Homo sapiens: one gene and its partners. The protein of the gene in region 1 purifies or fractionates together with the protein of each later gene. This does not show direct contact. Each region holds a gene or a part of one and is shown in the gene's direction. Other genes may lie near its edges. The genes, in order: IVNS1ABP, DHX36, GAPVD1, HNRNPR and HSPA12B.

The links.
Region 2: the proteins of IVNS1ABP (region 1) and DHX36 purify together in Homo sapiens (affinity purification with mass spectrometry, with the first as the bait; one large-scale study listed by BioGRID). This does not show direct contact.
Region 3: the proteins of IVNS1ABP (region 1) and GAPVD1 purify together in Homo sapiens (affinity purification with mass spectrometry, with the first as the bait; one large-scale study listed by BioGRID). This does not show direct contact.
Region 4: the proteins of IVNS1ABP (region 1) and HNRNPR purify together in Homo sapiens (affinity purification with mass spectrometry, with the first as the bait; one large-scale study listed by BioGRID). This does not show direct contact.
Region 5: the proteins of IVNS1ABP (region 1) and HSPA12B purify together in Homo sapiens (affinity purification with western blotting; one study listed by BioGRID). This does not show direct contact.

The regions. Positions count from the first base shown.
Region 1 is NC_000001.11:185,299,667-185,304,370, reverse strand, and holds part of IVNS1ABP (influenza virus NS1A-binding protein), read left to right. Parts: intron 1-2,807; coding exon 2,808-2,937; intron 2,938-3,174; coding exon 3,175-3,399; intron 3,400-3,812; coding exon 3,813-3,934; intron 3,935-4,027; coding exon 4,028-4,154; intron 4,155-4,240; coding exon 4,241-4,372; intron 4,373-4,487; coding exon 4,488-4,661; intron 4,662-4,704. UniProt on the Homo sapiens protein: Involved in many cell functions, including pre-mRNA splicing, the aryl hydrocarbon receptor (AHR) pathway, F-actin organization and protein ubiquitination.
Region 2 is NC_000003.12:154,300,488-154,303,987, reverse strand, and holds part of DHX36 (ATP-dependent DNA/RNA helicase DHX36), read left to right. Parts: intron 1-577; coding exon 578-659; intron 660-2,860; coding exon 2,861-3,001; intron 3,002-3,291; coding exon 3,292-3,394; intron 3,395-3,500.
Region 3 is NC_000009.12:125,364,622-125,368,266, forward strand, and holds the end of GAPVD1 (GTPase-activating protein and VPS9 domain-containing protein 1), read left to right. Parts: 3' UTR 1-2,586; downstream 2,587-3,645. UniProt on the Homo sapiens protein: Acts both as a GTPase-activating protein (GAP) and a guanine nucleotide exchange factor (GEF), and participates in various processes such as endocytosis, insulin receptor internalization or LC2A4/GLUT4 trafficking.
Region 4 is NC_000001.11:23,309,215-23,313,918, reverse strand, and holds part of HNRNPR (heterogeneous nuclear ribonucleoprotein R), read left to right. Parts: intron 1-216; coding exon 217-366; intron 367-2,596; coding exon 2,597-2,718; intron 2,719-2,852; coding exon 2,853-3,465; 3' UTR 3,466-4,704. UniProt on the Homo sapiens protein: Component of ribonucleosomes, which are complexes of at least 20 other different heterogeneous nuclear ribonucleoproteins (hnRNP). hnRNP play an important role in processing of precursor mRNA in the nucleus.
Region 5 is NC_000020.11:3,735,167-3,739,870, forward strand, and holds part of HSPA12B (heat shock 70 kDa protein 12B), read left to right. Parts: intron 1-1,101; exon of another isoform or gene 1,102-1,174; coding exon of another isoform or gene 1,175-1,177; intron 1,178-1,224; exon of another isoform or gene 1,225-1,266; intron 1,267-3,491; coding exon of another isoform or gene 3,492-3,508; coding exon 3,509-3,551; intron 3,552-4,704.

The DNA.
Region 1 (4,704 bases):
ATATTTTCCCCCTTAACTCTAAACATTTTGAGTTAACATTTTAAAAGTACATTTTCAACATGCAGAGGTTGAGTGCCCAATAAGTGGCAGGCCATAATGTTCGGTATGGCAACACAAAAATGTGTAAGAGACAGTTTCTGCTTGTAGGACCTTCTAAGAGTGGGCAAAACAATACAGGCTTATAAGAGGTAGCTACGAAAGGCCTAAAGGAGAGGACACAGTGAGACAGGAGAGAAGCCAGGGATATTTCACACAAGAGGTAACTTTTGAGCAGTGTTAGGATTTAGAGGAGTCTGCATAGCAGATAAAGGGAGAGGTGTTAGCAAAGAGTATCTGTGAGGATGATACTCTTGGAATTGCAGGTCATAAGACTGGGAAAGTAGGTAAATGCTCCCTGAATGGGGCTTATACTTTATCCTATAGGCAGTGGGAAGCCTTAGGTAAGAATACAGTGATACGAAAGTTTTGCATTCACTTTAGTAATGGTGAAAAACTGGGGAACAGTCTATTAGGTGGCAGTCTTTGGGCTGGAATATCCCAACTGATTTCTGGTTTTATTTTCTAAAATTGTTGCCTTGGACCCTTCCTATTTTTATAACCAGACACAGAAAATCAATAAAAGTTTGAGCCCAGTTTATAGACTATTGCCAGCAGTAGTTCAGGTTTTAAAAAAATGATGAGGGATTAATCTAGGGGCATGAAGGAGAAAGGATAGATTTTTTATTTATGTCTATATATAAATAGACATTTATATTTACAAAGGTTGACTTAGCAGGCCTTAGTGATTGCTTAGCAAGATTAGGGAAAAGAAAGAATTTGAGAATAAGTGGGATTCTGACATGTGTGACTCATTAGAATGTGATGCCATGAATAGAGATCATGAAGAGGATGCGAGGGACACATGTTAGACTTCAGGAATAGAAAAAGGAGGTTGAGAAGAAGCCATTAGAAAAGTCAGAGGACAATAAGAATCTAATCATGTTGTAAAAGCTACCTAAGGTAGGAGAAGAAAGTTTGAAGGAGGACTAAACACTGTCAAGTTCTCTGGGAGGTCATGTAAAATAAGGTTTAGGGATATATTCTTTACATATAAAGGATTTAATCAGCATTTCTATATTAGGCTTGTTATTAGGCATTGCTTTTGGGCCTTTCTCTTTCACAGTCATTTTCTCTTAATTATAGTTTGTACATTAGAACAGTTTTTTTACTTCAGTACAGCCTCAATGTAAGCATCATCCATTTGTGATATTTGGATCCCTTCTTCCCATAGGTTGGGATGAGGTTTTATGTACCTTGTAATTCATAATAATAGATAAGGTTAGATAAGTCTAACCTTATTTTTTATTCTTAATATTCATAGTATAAAAGTGATATGAAAGATGCATTCACAACTTTAGTAACAGTGGAAAACAGCCTGTCATAGTGTAAATCTGTTTTATAGTATGACATAACTTGTCATAGTATAAAAAGGATGGGGTTTATCTTCATAATTCCTAATCTTTATTTTAGTTGTATTGCCTTGGGCAATGCATATCTTCTTGAGTTTCAATATTTTTATCTATAAAATGGGTAGATAATATCACCCTCACTGGACTAAAAGAGATGATGTAAATAAAGTACCTAGTAATACCTAGGTACATAGTAAACATCTAAGTGGAATTTAATCATAACCATTGATAATGATACATTCCCTGCCTTTTCTCAAAATAGCCTACGTATGTTGTAACCACACTCAGGCCTAACTTTTGATATAGCTTTTTCTTAATAGCTTCAAGTAGCTAGCAAAATCTTTTTCTCAATTACTTGTTATATGGCTTTTTGCTTCCACTAGCAACAGAAATTTCCATTAGAAATTTTACCTATCCATGTGTTCTGGCCATCTGGACCAGCACAAGTGGGATGAGCAAACTAGGCCAGGTGCTGAAGTTGCTACCTGTTCATTTGGCAGTTCCTCTCAGAGTAGTCTTTACTCTTCCAATTCCATATGATCATATCCTTTGGAAGTGGCAAAGGCTAAAGTAATTGGAAGGAAGCCATCAAGGAAAACTCATACATGAGAACACATGTGTAAAGTAGTTCTCTTACAATCATTTGGAAATTGGCAGCTTTGTTCATTTCTCCCTCTTTAGTATTCCTGTATATTCTACTTTTGTGAATATTTGGTTGTTTTTAGTAATGTTTCATTTCTGATTACTATTTTCTTGTGTTTTGATGTAATTTTGTCTAGAAAACCACTCTATAATACCTATAAGGTAATCCTAAAGAAATATTCTTTAAGTGTTTCTTGTAATTGCCACTTTTTTCCTGTCAAGTACTTTCAGAGAAACTGGATGAATCTATATCTGCTTACGTTTTGCTGGCATTGTATGAAGGATACCTGTACATATGATTTAGTTAGGTTTGACAATTTCATGAAAATAGTGGGTTAAATGTATTCTCTGTTAATTCACACTATTTTAAATTTATAGCATTCTTTTAAAAGATTCTATACTTAATATAAAAATAATTATAGATTGGTTTTTTCTTCTGCTGAGGTCTTGATTTGCAACATGTTTTTCAAATTGTTAAAACTGAGCTTTTTCTTACCTAGGCTAATTGTGTAGGCGTAGTTGTCTCATCATTGAGTGGAGATGGAAGTATGCCAGTAATTTGTGTCATTTGGAAAGTGTTGGCTTGAGTTAAAGTTAGTGTCCTATAAATGTCATATATAGGTGAAGGATACTCAGTGTTGTGGAATAGCTCAGGAACAAAGGTACATCAGATGTGGTCTTTGGCTAGGTTTCTGTAGCTACCTTTTGATTTTGCAGAAAAAGCCACCACGTGAGAATGGCCATAAGCAGATAAGTAGCAGTTCAACTGGATGTCTCTCTTCTCCAAATGCTACAGTACAAAGCCCTAAGCATGAGTGGAAAATCGTTGCTTCAGAAAAGACTTCAAGTAAGTATATGACACTTGCCAGATTGTTTTCAGCTTACCTATTTTTAAGAAGGAGTGTTGCCAATTTAATACCTCTTAAATTGACTACTCGAGGAAAAAACTCAGAAGCAATTAAATTTGGAAAACGAGAGCAGATTGTTCCAGTCTGGGATGTGGAGACTGGAGTCCAATTCAGGATCATATACACAAACCAAAAGTAATAATTACATCTTAAACATGGAACTCTTGTGCTTACAGATAACACTTACTTGTGCCTGGCTGTGCTGGATGGTATATTCTGTGTCATTTTTCTTCATGGGAGAAACAGCCCACAGAGCTCACCAACAAGTACTCCAAAACTAAGTAAGAGTTTAAGCTTTGAGATGCAACAAGATGAGCTAATCGAAAAGCCCATGTCTCCTATGCAGTACGCACGATCTGGTCTGGGAACAGCAGAGATGAATGGCAAACTCATAGCTGCAGGTAAGAACAGAAGCATTCAACTGGCTAAGCATGTAGATGGGCATTTTTGTGACATGCAAACTTTCAAAGAGAGGGTTTAATATGCCATCTTTCACGGCAATCCAATAAGATAGGGAAATAACAATACTATTGAATATGGCTAACCTTCAGTTCAATGTCTGTATCTAATTTTTAAAAAAATTATGTCATGGCTAAATTTTTCTAATATTCAAGCCAAGACTAAGCAGTTTATTTGTACTGATAATGCGATTTTTCAGCTATTACAAGCACTTAGTTAAAAGATCAACTAAGGCATCCTTAAAAAGTTTTAATACTTTTTCTCATTGTGCAGATTTCTTAAACTTACAGGACTGGAAACCGTGGTCCAGTTTAATATTTTAAACATAAATCTTTATGGTTTTATTTTTTACCAGGTGGCTATAACAGAGAGGAATGTCTTCGAACAGTCGAATGCTATAATCCACATACAGATCACTGGTCCTTTCTTGCTCCCATGAGAACACCAAGAGCCCGATTTCAAATGGCTGTACTCATGGTAAGCGCATTATGTTGCAGGAGCAACCCCTATTTAGCTTTTTCCTCGTAACTTCAGGATGTTAGAAATTCTCATCTCTCACTTTTGGCATAGGGCCAGCTCTATGTGGTAGGTGGATCAAATGGCCACTCAGATGACCTGAGTTGTGGAGAGATGTATGATTCAAACATAGATGACTGGATTCCTGTTCCAGAATTGAGAACTAACCGTTGTAATGCAGGTAATAATAGTTTTCTCCTGAGATATCCAGTATTTAAATATGATAATTAAATTATCAATATGTAACTTTATTTTATACTTACATAGGAGTGTGTGCTCTGAATGGAAAGTTATACATCGTTGGTGGCTCTGATCCATATGGTCAAAAAGGACTGAAAAATTGTGATGTATTTGATCCTGTAACAAAGTTGTGGACAAGCTGTGCCCCTCTTAACATTCGTAAGTTGATTTTTTTTCCTTTTTTTTTTTAAAGACCTTCAAATCAACAGTATGTGTAGTATACACTTAGAGTCTGGGAGATGTAGCAATAATCTTGACTTGACTTTTCTTGTAGGGAGACACCAGTCTGCAGTCTGTGAGCTTGGTGGTTATTTGTACATAATCGGAGGTGCAGAATCTTGGAATTGTCTGAACACAGTAGAACGATACAATCCTGAAAATAATACCTGGACTTTAATTGCACCCATGAATGTGGCTAGGCGAGGAGCTGGAGTGGCTGTTCTTAATGGTGAGTGTTGGGATTTGGAGAGGTGAAGAGTAGATAGTGGCAA
Region 2 (3,500 bases), on another chromosome or scaffold:
GTATTTTGACCTCTGATGTGATGTTTGCTTTTTACAGTGTGTACTGCTTGTTTCGCTTGTTATGAAATGTAAAGAGCATTTAAATAACAGTACCGAAGTGATTTTTTTATTAGTAATTTTGAAATAGTAACAATCTATTTGTTTAGGTTTTGTTTTGATTACCTTTCTCCGCTAATTCCGGGTGCTACAAGTAGTAATGCTTATCTAGAATTCAGTAAAACTTTGATATTCTGGATATTCTATTATGGCACCATCTGGGTTAATGATGAAGAGAAAATAGACTTCTAACTAATGGATTTTGAGTTCAACTTAAAACTCTATTCTTTGATATTCTGTGTTATTTTGTAGAACTGTGAGATGTGTGTACAGTTTGGTAGCAGTAAAATGGTATTGAGTGAAGACTAGACTGCTGTTTTTTATTAAAGTAGGTGTGGAAAAGTAGGGTAGAATTGTAAAAGCTACAGGACCATTTTCTGGAATTAATAGTAAGTAATAGAGTCATTGTCCTATTTACAGTATATTAATGTTTTTAACATTTGAGTACAAATTTATGCTTATATTTTGTCTGCCGTAATAGGTAACTGTCCAATGATACATATACCTGGTTTTACCTTTCCGGTTGTGGAATATCTTTTGGAAGATGTAATTGAAAAAATAAGGTAAGTAAACATTAGGAAATAAAAAACATTAAAAAGTACTAATATATCACTTTTCTCATGTCAAACTTTAGTCTCAGAAACCCATCATTGACTATTTCCTTGTAAAACATTTTTCTGGGAATTAGCCACACTTGGCTGCACATTAAAATTGCCTGGAGCTTTTTAAAATCCAGATGCCTGATTTATACTCCCTACCTAAATTACATTACAGTGTCTGAGGTAGTAGCCAGGCATCCGTGGTTTTTTTTAATTGAGACAGAGTCTCTCTCTGTCGCCTAGCCTAGAGTGCAGTGGAGCTATCTCCGCTCACGGCAACCTCCGCCTTCCAGGTTGAAGTGATTCTCCCACCTCAGCCTCCCAAGTAACTAGGATTACAGGTGTGTGCCACCATGCCCAGCTAATTTTTGTATTTTTAGTAGAAACTAGTTTCACCGTGTTGGCCAGGCTGGTCTCAAACTCCTGACCTCAAGTGATTTGCCTGCCTCAGCATCCCAAAGTCCTGGTATTACAGGTGTGAGCCACCACGCCTGGCTGGTGTCAGTGTTTTTTGAAGATTCCTGGGCAGCAAAGTTTGGGAACCTTTGTCTTTAGTGTTTGAACCCTTTTGCTGGTTCTCCTGCCTGATTTTCACTTTCCTTTGTTGGCTTCCATTGCCGAACCTTTAAATATAATTTCCCCCAGTCTTCTCAATCATTTATGTTTTCACTGTGCAAACCTGTTTATATCCCTAACTGTAGTTCTGTATTTTCACAGCTTTCAGTAGTGTAGCTTCAGAACTGAAGCTTCTCCTGACCTTCGAACTGGCTTTCTGCTCAATAGTATTCTAGTACCACAGATGCCTTGAACCTAACATTTCTCAAGCCTAAATCATTATCTTATATTCTCCCACCAAAAAAATAAAACAATGTGTCTTGCCCAGCATACTTTATAATGGTTAATAATTATCCTCCACTTAGTTTTCTGACCTATAAATCAAAAAGTTAGTGTGTATCAGGCAGTTATGTACCAGGGTATGGCAACTGTTTTACACAGTGAGTAACCAAGTTAATCCAAGTCATTTTGTACTGCCTTCAAACACACACAAACTCTGGGAACTTTCTTCTTGAACATGCTTTCTCATTTTTATTTCTTTGCTAAGGTCCTTACTATCTCTCCTGTGCTAATACAATAGTTCCTCTTTTGGTACTATGTTCTTCACTCTTAGGGAAGCACTCTTTGTGCTATACATGAGGCTTTATCACTTTTTTTTTTTTTTTTACTTTATCACATTTTTAAAAATCTCATGCCAGTACTGTTACAAACATTAATCTCTCAAATAAGATAACTAAAGGCCAGATGTTTAATGCCTTGTCTAAGGTTACACAGCTAGTCAGTAGCAGAGGAGGGATATTCTGACTTGGGAGTCCATGCTCCAGCCCCTCCCCCATTCCATCTAGATGCTGTCCTCTAGTTGAGCTCAGAGATGCCTTGGGGTTAAAGTGTGGGTTCATTTTTGTCTTTTCCCACCTCGTGCCTCTCAGGACTGACAATGATAGGTAGAATTATTGTCCAGATGCGCCCTCTATGGTTTTAGCAATCACTACAGGATGGTAGTAGAATCATAGTACAGCACTCAATTGACATATGAGAGACTTGAATACTGATTCTGGATCTGCCATTAACTACAACTGTGTGACTGAGCAGAATTAAATAGTTCTCTAGCGTGGGTCTGTAGATCTGGATACACTATCTGAATCTCCTGCAGGCACTAATTAAAATTCTTAGATTAACAGACCCAAGGCATACCTACCAAATCCAAATCATCAGGGATGGGATTTAGGAGTCTGTATTTTACAAGCTCTCTGAGGGATTCAATTCTTACGTGCAGTCAGGTTTGGACTTAACATTAATATTAACTTTTGTTCTAAAGCAAACTTAAAATAGAAGGTAAAAGTTACTTACTTTAGTCTTTTTCTAAATTTTTGACTAAAAATGATCTATAGGTTTATATACTTCAATAAAGAAGAATGATTTTTATCCAAAATATCAGGTTTTATAAGTTAATGAACACAAACTGATATTTTAGCTAGCATTCACTTGAAAGCATAATGAAAATGTTCTTTGGAATCCTTTTTGAAAATCCTAAATATAAAATGTCACAGATTTTAGCTAAAACTAGAGTTTCAAAAAAGTGAAGATATTCAAGAATGTTTTTATTTTAGGTATGTTCCAGAACAAAAAGAACACAGATCCCAGTTTAAGAGGGGTTTCATGCAAGGGCATGTAAATAGACAAGAAAAAGAAGAAAAAGAAGCAATATATAAAGAACGTTGGCCAGATTATGTAAGGGAACTGCGAAGAAGGTAAGTTTATTTTGTCTGAAGGTGAGAAATCAGTGGCTAAATAAAACAAAAAGCCAGAGGCTGGGGGCATCTTCTTGAATCTGTACGTACTTAAAGGAGAGCATTGTGAGTCTCTTATTCGAGCTAAATATTGTGCTGATTTGACTTTTAAGCAGTAATTACCCCAGTAATTCTCTCCGATCTGTAGATTATGTTCCTCCATTTGCAGATTGAGTTAATTTTAAGCTTTTGTAGCAAGTTAACAGAAAACTTGATTAAGTATTTCATGACTTTGTGTTTAACTTTGATAGGTATTCTGCAAGTACTGTAGATGTTATAGAAATGATGGAGGATGATAAAGTTGATCTGAATTTGATTGTTGCCCTCATCCGATACATTGTTTTGGAAGAAGAGGTTAGTTTTATTTTTCTTTCTTCAGTTAACATAATTTTAATTTTATTAACGTATCAAGGCCATGAAAAATACAGTTTTCTTAAATGCTTATGAAATAGACTGGAAG
Region 3 (3,645 bases), on another chromosome or scaffold:
TGTGGGATGTGGTTTCTGCCTTCTAGAGAGAGATCAGAATTAAACTAGTACTATGAAATGTCCTTTTGAATGTTAGGTCAAGAAATCCATGTACAGAGTCGTGCACTTCATTGGCTGTAACTGTCAAACTTGCCTTGTATTAGAAGTTAAATCCCATCGTAAATACATCACGAGGCCAGCTGTGTGATTTCTGAGACCTAGATGAGAGTCCATTTACTTCAGCCTTTGATTCAGTAAATGTTAAGCAGCAGAAGACTTCGAATGGTTGAAATTCATTGTTACAGGATTTAACTCATAAACCAATGAGAGATTTTTTTTTTCTCTGCAATGGTTGCTAAGTCTATTCCATGTTAACACTGTGGAAATAAATATGAAGATGTGGACATTGCATCGGGGCTCTTTTCTGTGGAAGAGAAGGTGGTGGGATTGGGGTGAAGGGCTACACTGGAGGCAGGAGATAGGGCTGTGCTGTGTTGGAGCCGGGGCTGAGGGTAGACCCCCCAGAGATTTGACATCTGTGACACCTGTGAAATGGGTTCGGGTGCTCATGACTCCATAGCTGGCGGAGGAGCACAGCACAGCTGTTGCAGGGGCAGCTAAGGTTTCCTCTGAAAATCTGTCAGGAGCAAGGACTACTTTGGCATTAACCATCACTGTTTGATTTCTTGACAGGTATGTGAGATGGGGAGTGATTTGATTTTTTTTTTTTTTTTTAATAGAAAAGAGGAATAGTTGTTCCCCAAATGTTTCTTCCTCCACTGCCTTCCAGTACTTTCTTTACATGAAAGATTAGTGTAAAAGTACAAAATCAGCCCAGGAAACATTCAGCAGCCACTAGTTACTACATAGAATTTATAAAGTGGATGTTAAATGGAGAGAGAGTTGGCTCAGGTCCCCTGAAATCTTGTAGGATTAACTTCTCTGAGGAAAAGAAAAATCAGGTTTGCATTTTGTATTAATATTCTGCTTTTAGAAGTAATAGAAATACAAGTTGAAGATTGTCTTTACTTACAAAATTATATTTTAATTTTTTTTGAGACATAGTCTTGCTCTGTCACCCAGTCTGGAGTGCAGTGCTGTGATCTCGGCTCACTGTAACCACCATCTCCCAGTCTCTAGTGATTCTCATGGCTCAGCCTCCCTGGTTGCTCAGATTACAAGTGTATGCCACCACACCCAGCTAATTTTTGTATTTTTTGTAGAGACAGGGTTTCGCCATGTTGGCCAGGCTGGTCTCGAACTCCTGGCCTCAAGTGATCCGCCTACCTCGGCTTCCCAAAGTGCTGGGATTATAGGCGTGAGCCACCGTGCCCAACCACAAAATTATATGTATATATATTTAAACGTGTCAAACATTTTGCTTTCTTTCTCCATTTTAGGTAAAATCTCAGCCACAGTAATTGCTTTCTTCTGCTTTTTCTTTATAAAAACCTGCTTATGAAGGCCTTCTGATACAGATAGTTAAATCGCTGTAGTAGGAGGCTCAGGTTTTCTAAGGGATTGCAAATGTGCTGCATGGTTTTTCTATTCCTATGTCCTGGAAGCCTTTGTTTAAAGTGGGCTTTACAAATGTGTCCCTGAGGTGCGTGAGCAAGAGAACAATCTCAGCCCCAATACGGGGGCTGTGTTCTTGCCGTAAGAATCTGTAGCTGACTGGTGTGCTGAACCCGGGCACTCTTTTTCCTATTGTTTGCCATGGAAATTTCCACTTTGGACCGAGTAAGGTCAACTAGGTGTTTTAAAATTGTTTTTCTCCTATGTGATTGGGTGTGAAGAGGGAAAGTAGGAATACACTCAGAATTATTACTGGATTGCATAAAAGTGATAGAAGTGTAGTGGGGTTCACTTCCTCAATTGGTGCTTCCTAGATTTTTCTCTCCCATCTCTTCCTGCTTTGTTTCTTTAAAGAAAAGGCTGTTGTCTCTCTTTTTAAATATTTAAGTCTAGTGAGTTTATTTTGTACGCAATTGCTTTAATTTTAAGGGAAGTAAATCTGAAACTATCTTGAAGCCCAAAGGATTTTTAGTAAGTGGATTAACAGTGATGAGGTATTTGCGATTACTTTAAATGCCAAAATGCTTGAGAACTTTGCCAGGTTAAAAATTACTTAATATATTTTAGAATGTAGGTTAGAAAGTAGTAGGACAAGGAATAGCTTTATTACTCTTGAGAACACTTGGATAAATGAAAATATAGTTTGCTTCCGTGTTAAGTTGTGGTTGAGCTATGGAGTGACCCTGGAGCTGCCGCATCCCACAGGCCTGAGCTCAGCAAGGGTTCAATTCAAGAGAGATGACGTCTCCACTTGGATAATGGCAGACAGTGTGGGTAGCGGCCATGCACTAGGGGAATTCACCTCTGTCAAATTAATACTCTCCTGTCTACTGGATTCTTCTTGTGCTTCACCTGGATTAAAAAGCTGTACTGCCTCTTTTGAAACAGATAAAACCTTTCTATAAGTCTCAATTAATGAGCTTGCACAATCTTGTATATGTACAGGAAACCCCTCCTGTCTCCTAATGTGATTAGTACTGTAAAATATTCTATAAAACTGATTAAAAGGGGAGAGCAGTTTGATTCACAGGGTTTTATGTTTCTGTCATCTATTTTATATTCAGAAGCATTTCTGAAAACGTATTTGACTTCCGAATGTTCTGATGTTCTCCGTGAATTCACACACATCTTTTTTATCTGAACAATAAGGGTGTTTGCTAAGTATGGCACAAGAAGGAACTAGAATGACCTGGCAGTAACTAACACAATGGTGAACATCTAAGGGTTTTTTTTTTTTTTTTTTTGAGACAGGGCCTGGCTCTGTCGCCCAGGCTGGAGTGCAGAGGCAGGATCTAGGGTCACTGCAAACTCTGCCTCCTGTTCTCAAAGATCCTCCAGCCTCAGCCTTCCCAGTAGCTGGGACAACAGGCATACGCTACCACACCTGACTAATATTTGTATTGTTTGTAGAGGCAGGGTTTTGCCATGTTGCCCAGTCTCCTGAGCTCAAGCGATCTGCCCGCCTCAACCTCCCAAAGTGCTGGGATTACAGGCGTGAGCCACTGCACCCAGACCTTCATCTATGGATTTAACAGTTTCTGCCTAATGCCTATATTTGGTAGCTATTTATCATTTTTCATTTTGAAAGCAAAAGTGTTGCCATCTAATCACAATATTCATTTAGGCCTTTATTAATCTTTCCAGCCAAGGGAAGTTACTTTTGACAAGGAGTACTAACTCATTCTTCAGGCTTCCCTTGCTGGTGAGAAGGCGCTTTTCTTATATTGATTGCACTTCATTTAGAAGGAAATAGTTAAAAACTTGCTTACGGCCCATTTCCATTTGCTCTGTTCAGTATTTTTTTTTTTTTTTTTGAGGCAGAGTTTTGCTCTTGTTACCCAGGCTGGAGTGCAATGGCTCGATTTTGGCTCACTGCAACCTTCGCTTCCCAGGTTCAAGCAGTTCTGCCTCAGCCTCCTGAGTAGCTGGAATACAGGCATGCGCCACCACGCCCAGCTGATTTTGTATTTTTAGTAGAGACGGGGTTTCGCCATATTGGTCAGGCTGGTCTCGAACCCCTGACCTCAGGTGATCCACCTGCCTCGGCCTCCCAAAGTGCTGAGATTACAGGTGTAAGCCACCGCACCCGGC
Region 4 (4,704 bases), about 160 Mb from region 1:
TAATGACAACATAGGAGAAGGCAGGAACCAATAATTTTTGTAAATTGGTGACTGATATCAGTGTCATTTTCCTAGCAATTTCTCTTACTACCTGTAACAACACTTTTAGCACTTAATGTTTTAGAGGAGAAAAGCTATGCTATGAAGACAGGAAGAAACACTTTTCAGGTAAAATTAAGTAGCCAATGACGGTTTTGTTTATTTGTTGCTTACTAGGTAAAAGTTTTGTTTGTGAGAAACTTGGCTACTACGGTGACAGAAGAAATATTGGAAAAGTCATTTTCTGAATTTGGAAAACTCGAAAGAGTAAAGAAGTTGAAAGATTATGCATTTGTTCATTTTGAAGACAGAGGAGCAGCTGTTAAGGTAGGAATTTTGAAATTTTGGTTCTTGATATTTGAATTTTGTTTTTGAAACTTGCCAAACACAAAGTAACTTTAAAAACTGAAACAATATTGGTTGTCAGCTTTTGCTGAACTCTTTCTATTTAATCTCTGTAAAGTGGTAATAGTATGTAACAGATAAGACTCCATATTTCAAAGCCAGGTTATTACTGAGTTTGTGATCTTAGGCAAGTTATTTTTAATCTCTGTATTGTTTTGTAAGATTCGATAGCATGATGCCTTGGAAGTATTACAAGGTATAAAAATTAGCTGCTGTAAACACTGAATAGGTAATGAATGCATTATAACTACTTAGTTGACCTCAGTTTGTGTACCTATGAAGGAAACTGAGTGGTGTACATGACTCATACAGTATACCATGTTTAATTGAGTAGATAGATTTTGAGGGTATGATTAGTTTTACCTTTATTTAATCATTTTAGAGTTAAAATAGCATTCACTATGTTTTACTGATTTCGGTAATTGTTAGAGATATCACTTGTGTATAATAGTTGATTTAGTCTTTGATGATAATGAAAAGTTTGAAGAAAGTATTTTCATATGGTATCTGGAACACAAAACCTGCTTTCTATCGACAATGGTTTAGGACTATCTTTAATGGGTGAAATTTTCAGTTTCTTTTTTTTATTCATCTCTCCTTCCTTGGGGGGGTGGGAGCAAGACAAAACACTACTAAAATCTTATTTATGTTATTAGGAAGATAGATCCAGAATGCTTAGTGACACAGGCATGGTTCTTTTTCTGCATGTTTGGTCGGTGGGATACTGCCATCTCTAATCTGAGCATTTTTTGGTTTTGTTTTTTGCCCAGGCTACTGCTTTTAAAACAGGCTTTATAGAATCCCTGATTGGTTTATAATTAATTGGCTTGCTCATTGATGGTAGCTAATTAATGAGGCAGTATTGTTCATAAAATTCATAACTTGTCCAAGATCACAAACTCAGTAATAATCTGGCTTTGAAGTATGGAGTCTTATCTGTTATGCTGTTATACTCTTATCCGTTCATTTGTGGCTTCTGAAATTTCACTGGTATAGAATGCAGATAACTAATAATTTTATGCTGTCTAAATATTCCTCCTGACTCGACTGGTTTCAAATAACTGGTTGTCCTGATTGAAAATATTTATAGGATGGTTTGCCAAAGAAGCCTATGAAATTATAAAATATCTAGTCCAGGAACTGGGAGTCACCAGGATGGTCAGGGCAGAGGGTAGATGTTTCATTTTTTAATTTATGCCAGGAAGCTTTTGTAAACTTGTTTAGTTGCTTTAACTGAAGCAACGCAAAGCTGAGGTGGTAAAAGGGAAAATTGCAGTCTTGAGGACTAGTTTCGTTTTTGTCTAGATACTTATAAATCACTGATAGCTCCAATAGAACATTTTTTTATGTGTGCCCAGAGTGGGGAAAGGTATAGGGAAACAAAAAATAAAATATCATGAGGAGGTGACATTTTGTTACTGAGTACCTGAACCTTTTGATGTATGGCAGAGGTTGTTAGGTGGAACAACGTGAACAAAGGGCTAGAACATGGAATGTTTGATTACTGCTTTCTACATAATTGCTTGAGTCTTCATTAGTCCAGGCCTTTTCTGGCTCTGTACTTTTAACTGTTCAAGCAAAGTACATTTTGGGTTAAGCATTGTGAGGGAAACCTAGGCTTTTTTGTGTTAGTATCTTCTTGAATTTTACAGATAATCTCACTCAGTAACCTCATTTGTGCTTCAAATCCTTGAAATTGTCGTATAAGAACAGTGGAAGACCTGTATGTTGTATGCTACATGTTTATTTTAAAATTCTAATCCTGAGAAGTTAATCTTTGTCTGGCTCGTATTAATACTGGCATTTTTCCCCGGTATGGATTTGCTTCTTTGGTATGGCTTATCTTTTAAGGAGTTATTTGGAATTAAGGAGCAGCAATAGGTGGCAGCCCTTTTACCTTTTAAAATATAATATCAGGTGGTCGGTTTTGTTCTAAATGTAATTTATGTATAAAAAGATAAGGTCAAGGGAAACGTATTTTCTTTGTGTGTTTGTGTTTAACTTTCTGGCTAGATTCACCTTTTGCCATTTAAAATAATTGTGAAGTAAATTGTTAAGTGTATTAAATTACACAAGTATAATAGCTTACATACTATATAAAACAAAATACAGTTTTATATCGTTGTAAAATAATTTTTCTAATTTTTTATAGGCTATGGATGAAATGAATGGCAAAGAAATAGAAGGGGAAGAAATTGAAATAGTCTTAGCCAAGCCACCAGACAAGAAAAGGAAAGAGCGCCAAGCTGCTAGACAGGCCTCCAGAAGCACTGCGTGAGTCTACATTTTAGTAGATATATCTTTGGACAAGGAATAACGTGATAATGGAGATCAGATTAATAAAACAAAATCAGAGTCTTGAAGCAAACTGATTTGTTTTTTCTTTTCTCCCTTCTCTACTTTGCTAGGTATGAAGATTATTACTACCACCCTCCTCCTCGCATGCCACCTCCAATTAGAGGTCGGGGTCGTGGTGGGGGGAGAGGTGGATATGGCTACCCTCCAGATTACTACGGCTATGAAGATTACTATGATGATTACTATGGTTATGATTATCACGACTATCGTGGAGGCTATGAAGATCCCTACTACGGCTATGATGATGGCTATGCAGTAAGAGGAAGAGGAGGAGGAAGGGGAGGGCGAGGTGCTCCACCACCACCAAGGGGGAGGGGAGCACCACCTCCAAGAGGTAGAGCTGGCTATTCACAGAGGGGGGCACCTTTGGGACCACCAAGAGGCTCTAGGGGTGGCAGAGGGGGTCCTGCTCAACAGCAGAGAGGCCGTGGTTCCCGTGGATCTCGGGGCAATCGTGGGGGCAATGTAGGAGGCAAGAGAAAGGCAGATGGGTACAACCAGCCTGATTCCAAGCGTCGTCAGACCAACAACCAACAGAACTGGGGTTCCCAACCCATCGCTCAGCAGCCGCTTCAGCAAGGTGGTGACTATTCTGGTAACTATGGTTACAATAATGACAACCAGGAATTTTATCAGGATACTTATGGGCAACAGTGGAAGTAGACAAGTAAGGGCTTGAAAATGATACTGGCAAGATACGATTGGCTCTAGATCTACATTCTTCAAAAAAAAAAATTGGCTTAACTGTTTCATCTTTAAGTAGCATTTTGCTGCCATTTGTATTGGGCTGAAGAAATCACTATTGTGTATATACTCAAGTCTTTTTATTTTTCCTCTTTTCATAAATGCTCTTGGACATTATTGGGCTTGCAGAGTTCCCTTATTCTGGGGATTACAATGCTTTTATCGTTTCAGGCTTCATTTTAGCTTCAAAACAAGCTGGGCACACTGTTAAATCATGATTTTGCAGAACCTTTGGTTTTGGACAGTTTCATTTTTTTGGATTTGGGATAGATTACATAGGAGTATGGAGTATGCTGTAAATAAAAATACAAGCTAGTGCTTTGTCTTAGTAGTTTTAAGAAATTAAAGCAAACAAATTTAAGTTTTCTTGTATTGAAAATAACCTATGATTGTATGTTTTGCATTCCTAGAAGTAGGTTAACTGTGTTTTTAAATTGTTATAACTTCACACCTTTTTGAAATCTGCCCTACAAAATTTGTTTGGCTTAAACGTCAAAAGCCGTGACAATTTGTTCTTTGATGTGATTGTATTTCCAATTTCTTGTTCATGTAAGATTTCAATAAAACTAAAAAATCTATTCAAAACATTACCTATTTCAAATTCAATTGTGTCCTAAAACATTATTTTATTCGTAATCCTTGCAAGGAATATTGTTTTCAAAGTATAACTGCCTATGTGAGTGATCAAATTCATGCAAAATTTCTTGTTTATTCCAACATGTGTTGTGGATATTAGACTGAGGATTAGTCTAAATTCAAGTATTTATTCCAATTAGCACTTTCATTGATTGGTGTTCTCTCATAGTCTCTTCTAATTTTGAAATTTTATCTTTTATTAAAAAAAAAAAAACAGGTTCATAGACTTTTGAGCATTCTTGCAGGCATTGGATAATTTGCATTAAAACAAATAAAATGTGGCTGGGAAAGCAGACTGCAATTTATTTTGACCCACATTCTTTATAAGGGATAATTTGTGACTGAAGACCTTATTTGCTGGATAAGTGAATGTACATACAGGGAAAATTGTTAGTACTGTGGCGTCAATTGCACTGCGGACTTTAGTTTTAGTGAAAATGATCGTGACTACCATTTCAGTTACTGGTTTAGGAATATAATTTCCTATTACTATGTAAATTTGCTTTGAGAAACATTCATGCC
Region 5 (4,704 bases), on another chromosome or scaffold:
TGCTCAAACCTGCCCAACTCCCTGCTTTTATCAATACCTTGCATATCTGGACTTGTTAACATAAGCCCTCTGTGTCACCCATTCTACAGGAAAGGGCACTGAGGCACAGAGATGTGGCATGATGCACTCACGCTAGGTGCCATAATAGGCTCTTGCCATCCCTGAAACCCCAGCATAGGGGCACTCAGCATATCGCACAATGAGAGACGGTAGATAACTGGACAAGCTTCCGATAGCTGGGAAGAGTATAGGCCCATGGTTTGGATGTGGAATCCAGTGTAGAGCGAGGACTCAGTCTTTTTTTTTTTTTTTTCTTGAGATGGGGTCTCACTCTTCTCGCCCAGGCTGGAGTGCAATGGCGCGATCTTGGCTCACTGCAACCTCTGCTTCCCAGGTTCAAACGATTCTCCTGCCTCAGCCTCCTGAGTAGCTGGAATTACAGGCGTCTGCCACTACGCTTGGCTAATTTTTGTATTTTTAGTAGAGACAAGGTTTCACCATGTTGGCCAGGCTGGTCTCGAATTCCTGACCTCAGGTGATCCACCTGCCTCAGCCTCTGAAAGTGCTGGGATTACAGGAGTGAGCCACGGCGCCCGGCCCAGAGTCTTTTTTTTCTGGTGGTTCTAGGTTGTTTCTCCTCCAGATACAATAGCCTCGGTCCAGAAAATCCATTCATTCATTCAACAAAGTGGTTCCCCAGTGCTTAGCACAGAGCCTGGCATGAAGAATCTCGATAAGTGTTTGCTGAAGAATCAGAACAACATACAAATAAGGCTGCCAGCTCCTCCCTCGAGACCTTGATCCAGTAGTATGCTGGTTAATGGTTTCCAATCAGCTCTGGAAGAAGGATAAAATCCTGATTTATGGTGTTTGCCAATTTCTGTCTTGTAAATACTCCCAGCCATGACTGATTTGAAGCTACCAATGTGATGTCATTGAATGCAGAATTGGGAAGAGATAGAAAGAATCAGCTCGCATGAGCTGGTGGGACCCAGCTCAGCATCCCACTCCATCATCCTGAGCTGGGCTCTGGGCTCCTGCCCCTGGCTCCTAAGAACCCTCCCCTCCCCCTCTCTGTGCTTTCCCTTTTCTCCTCAACAGCCAGCTGCTATATGCATGCCCACAACCAGCACCCATCCTTCTTCTGATTCTGATTCCTGAGCATCCAACTCCAATGGTACAGAGGACAGCAAGAGTGTCTGGAAATCTCCATGGTGCTGGCCATGCAGGAGAATCCTGGACATACAAGAGTGTGTGGGAGTCCAGGTGTCTGTCCACAATGGGGCTGGTTTGTGTGAACTGTGTGAGCAAGGGTGTGTGCATGTGTCTATGGGCATGCCAGAGCCAGCTCTGTGTCTGCCTGTGTTCTATAGCAAAACTTTCAGATTGGGCCGCTGGTGACAGAGAAGGAATGCATTGGCCCTGCGTAGCCTCCTCCTTTGTTTAGAGGAGCAGCCAGGCCCACCAATGAGAACATAGTGTCAGTGGTCTGCAGACTGGCTGAGAGACACTGTTGAGCAACACTTCTCAAACTTCAATGTGCACCTGAATCACCTGGGAATCTTGTTAAAATAGGCCAGACGCGGTGGCTTACGCCTGTAATCCCAGCACTTTGGGAGGCTGAGACGGGCGGATCACCTGAGGCCAGGAGTTCGAGACCAGCCTGGCCAATATGGTGAAACCCCGACTCTACTAAAAATACAAAAATTAGCCAGGCATTTTTAGGTGGCATTTTAGGCAAATTAGGTGGCGCATGCCTGTGGCCCCAGCTACTTGGGAGGCTGAGGCAGGATAATCACTTGAACCCAGGAGATGGAGATTGCAGTGAGCTGAGAACTGAGATCACGCCACTGCACTCCAGCCTGGGGGACAGAGTGAGACTCTGCCTCAAAAATAAATAAATAAATAAATAAATAAATAAATAAATAAATAAATAAATATGAAATACATGTTCTGATTCAGCAGGTCTGGGCTGGGGCCTGAGGTTCTGCATTTCTAACAAGCTTCCAGGTGATACCAATGCTGCTGATCCTCAGCCCACACTTTGAGTAACAAAGCTGTTGATGGTTTGAAATATCCTGCCTATAGCCTGGCCCCAGAACTTCATAGACAGGATCGAGCCCCTCCCATCTTAGAAAATAAATATTCTTCCTCACCTCCCTTCAGCTTTAGCGCCCTCCAACTACTGCCCTCACATGTATTCCTGATTTCAGCCAAGCTTTTCAGAAATTCTAGCTCAATATGATTGCGTCACTACACTCCAGCCTGGGCAACAGAGTGAAACTCCATCTTAAGAAAAGAAGTTCTAGCTCATGTCACCTCTTGCTCACTCCTCACCTAAGCTTACCTCCCTTGGGCCACTAAAACAGTGTTTCCAGTCTCATCTGGGGACCTTTTACAGGGATCTAGCTTTACCCATCTCTTGGTACAATCTTCATGAGACCATGAGGCATCTCAGTCTCCTGGGCCGGTATATATTCCTCTGTTCAGCCTTTAAATGTAGGTTCTCCTCGTGACAGAGTGACACCCTATCTCAAAACAAACAAACAACGAAGGCCAGGCACGGTGGCTCATGCCTGTAATCCCAGCACTTTGAGAGGCCGAGGTGGGCGGATCACCTGAGGTCAGGAGTTCGAGAACAGCCTGGCCAACACGGCGAAACCCCGTCTCTACTAAAAATACAAAAATTAGCTGGGCATGGAGGCACTCACCTGTAATCCCAGCTACTGAGGAGGCTGAGGTAGGAGAATGGCTTGAACCTGGGAGGCAGAGGTTGCAGTGAGCCAAGATCGTGCCACTGCATTCCAGCCTGGGCAACAGAGTGAGACCCTGTCTCAGAAAAAAGAAAAGACAAATTGAGTCATGCCCCCACCCCACCCTGCCACCTCAAACCTTTCAAGATTTGCTGTTGCCCTTCATATAAAATCAAATCTGAAATAGGGTGCACAGGCCCTGCCTGCAGGGTAAGCCCAGCCCAGCCCTCTGTCCAGACTTACCATGTCCTCTTCCCACCCCGCATTATCCAACTTTGACCTTCCTAGCACTCAGCAACGCTTGTCATTTCAAAATCACTTGCCTGATTATCTCCTCCATCAGACCGTTGGTTTCTAGGGCAGGGACAGTGTCTCTCTGGGTCACTATCTCCCAGCACCTGGCACAGAGCAGGCACCAGAAAACATTTAGGAGGATCCTGATTCCAAGAAAGTAAAGCCATTTTTTGACACAAGCTGGGAACTGTGGGACTTTAGATGAGATTTAAGGAATTACTGTTAATTTCATTAGACATGAGAATGGTGTTGCGATGACATTGTTTAAAACGTCTTTATCTGTTGGAGAGATGTATTAAAGAGTTCACGGGTGAAACAACATGATGGCTGGGATTTGCTTCAAAGGACTCCAGCCAAAAGTAAACAAATAAAATAAATAAGCATTCAGATGAGGGAACAAAGGGACAAATAAATCCCACTCTGCTTGTCTGTTCCTGTTGACAGCTACAGGGCCTGCAAGGATGTTGGCTGTCCCGGAGATGGGCCTGCAGGGGCTGTACATCGGTAAGAACCCCCACCATTCTGCCCTGACCCATCACCCACTCACCCGAGCAGGCACTGAGACCCACCTACAGGTTGTGCAATGTACCTCTCCCACAGAGCTTCCCAACAGCTCTTCTGTGAGTGAGTGTGTGTGTGTGTGTGCATGTGTGCAGGGCAGGTCTGTGTTTACTGGACCCCCCTGTGTGTGCAGAAAGGGTCTGTGTGCACCGGTCTGTGTATGTGAGTATGTGTGCACACAGGACTGGTCTATTCACAGGACCCTCATGTGTATATGAGTGTGGGCTGAGTGCGTGTGTTTGTGTGTGCCAGAAGGGTCTGTGCACACAGGAGTGTATGCATGTGCGTGTGTTTTGTTCAGGCTCTGTCCACAGGACCCTGTGTGAGTGTGTCAGTGAGTGTGTGTCTCTGCGGGCAGGTCTCTGTGCACGGGATCTGTGTACGGGAGTATAGTCTGCAGGTGGGCATGCATACAGAGAGTTCTGCGTGTGCATGGAGGGTCTGTGTGCACAGGAGTGTTTGAATGTCCATGTGTTTTGTTCAGGCCATGTGCACAGGACCCCGTGTGAGTGCATCAGTGAGTGTGTGTCTCTGCGGGCAGGTCTCTGTGCACAGGATCTGTGTACGGGAGTATAGTCTGCAGGTGGGCACGCATGCAGAGAGTTCTGCGTGTGCATGTGCGTCTGGCCATAGCCTGGTCTGGGAGCAGGCTTGGGTTCTCCGCAGGGGTGGGAGGCCGGAGGCAAGAGGGACACTCCTCAGGAAGTCCATTCACAAAGACCTGGTGGGCTGGGCCCTTCCTTCCTGCCTCCCTTCCCAAGCTCGAGCCACAGCAACTTGGCCTCTCGGGCTGCAGCTGGTGGCAGGGCTGGAGCCTGCCCTGGCTGCCTGAGGAGAGGGAGCCCTTGAAATGTGGCCACTTTTTCCCTGCCCCTCCAGCACCTCAGACTCTGGCCCTGTCCAGGCGCTTCCCAGAGTCCCCCTCATGCCTGGCCCTTCGCCTGTGTTCCCAGGTTACCCCCAAGGCCAGGGAGAGTGGAGACCTGCCTGGCAGCACGTGACAGGACTGTGGCTGAGGGAGCACAGGGCCTGCCTGGCTCAGCCTAAGGCGAGCCAGACCTGCCTGATTTGTCCATGGAGCTTCCTACCAGATCTC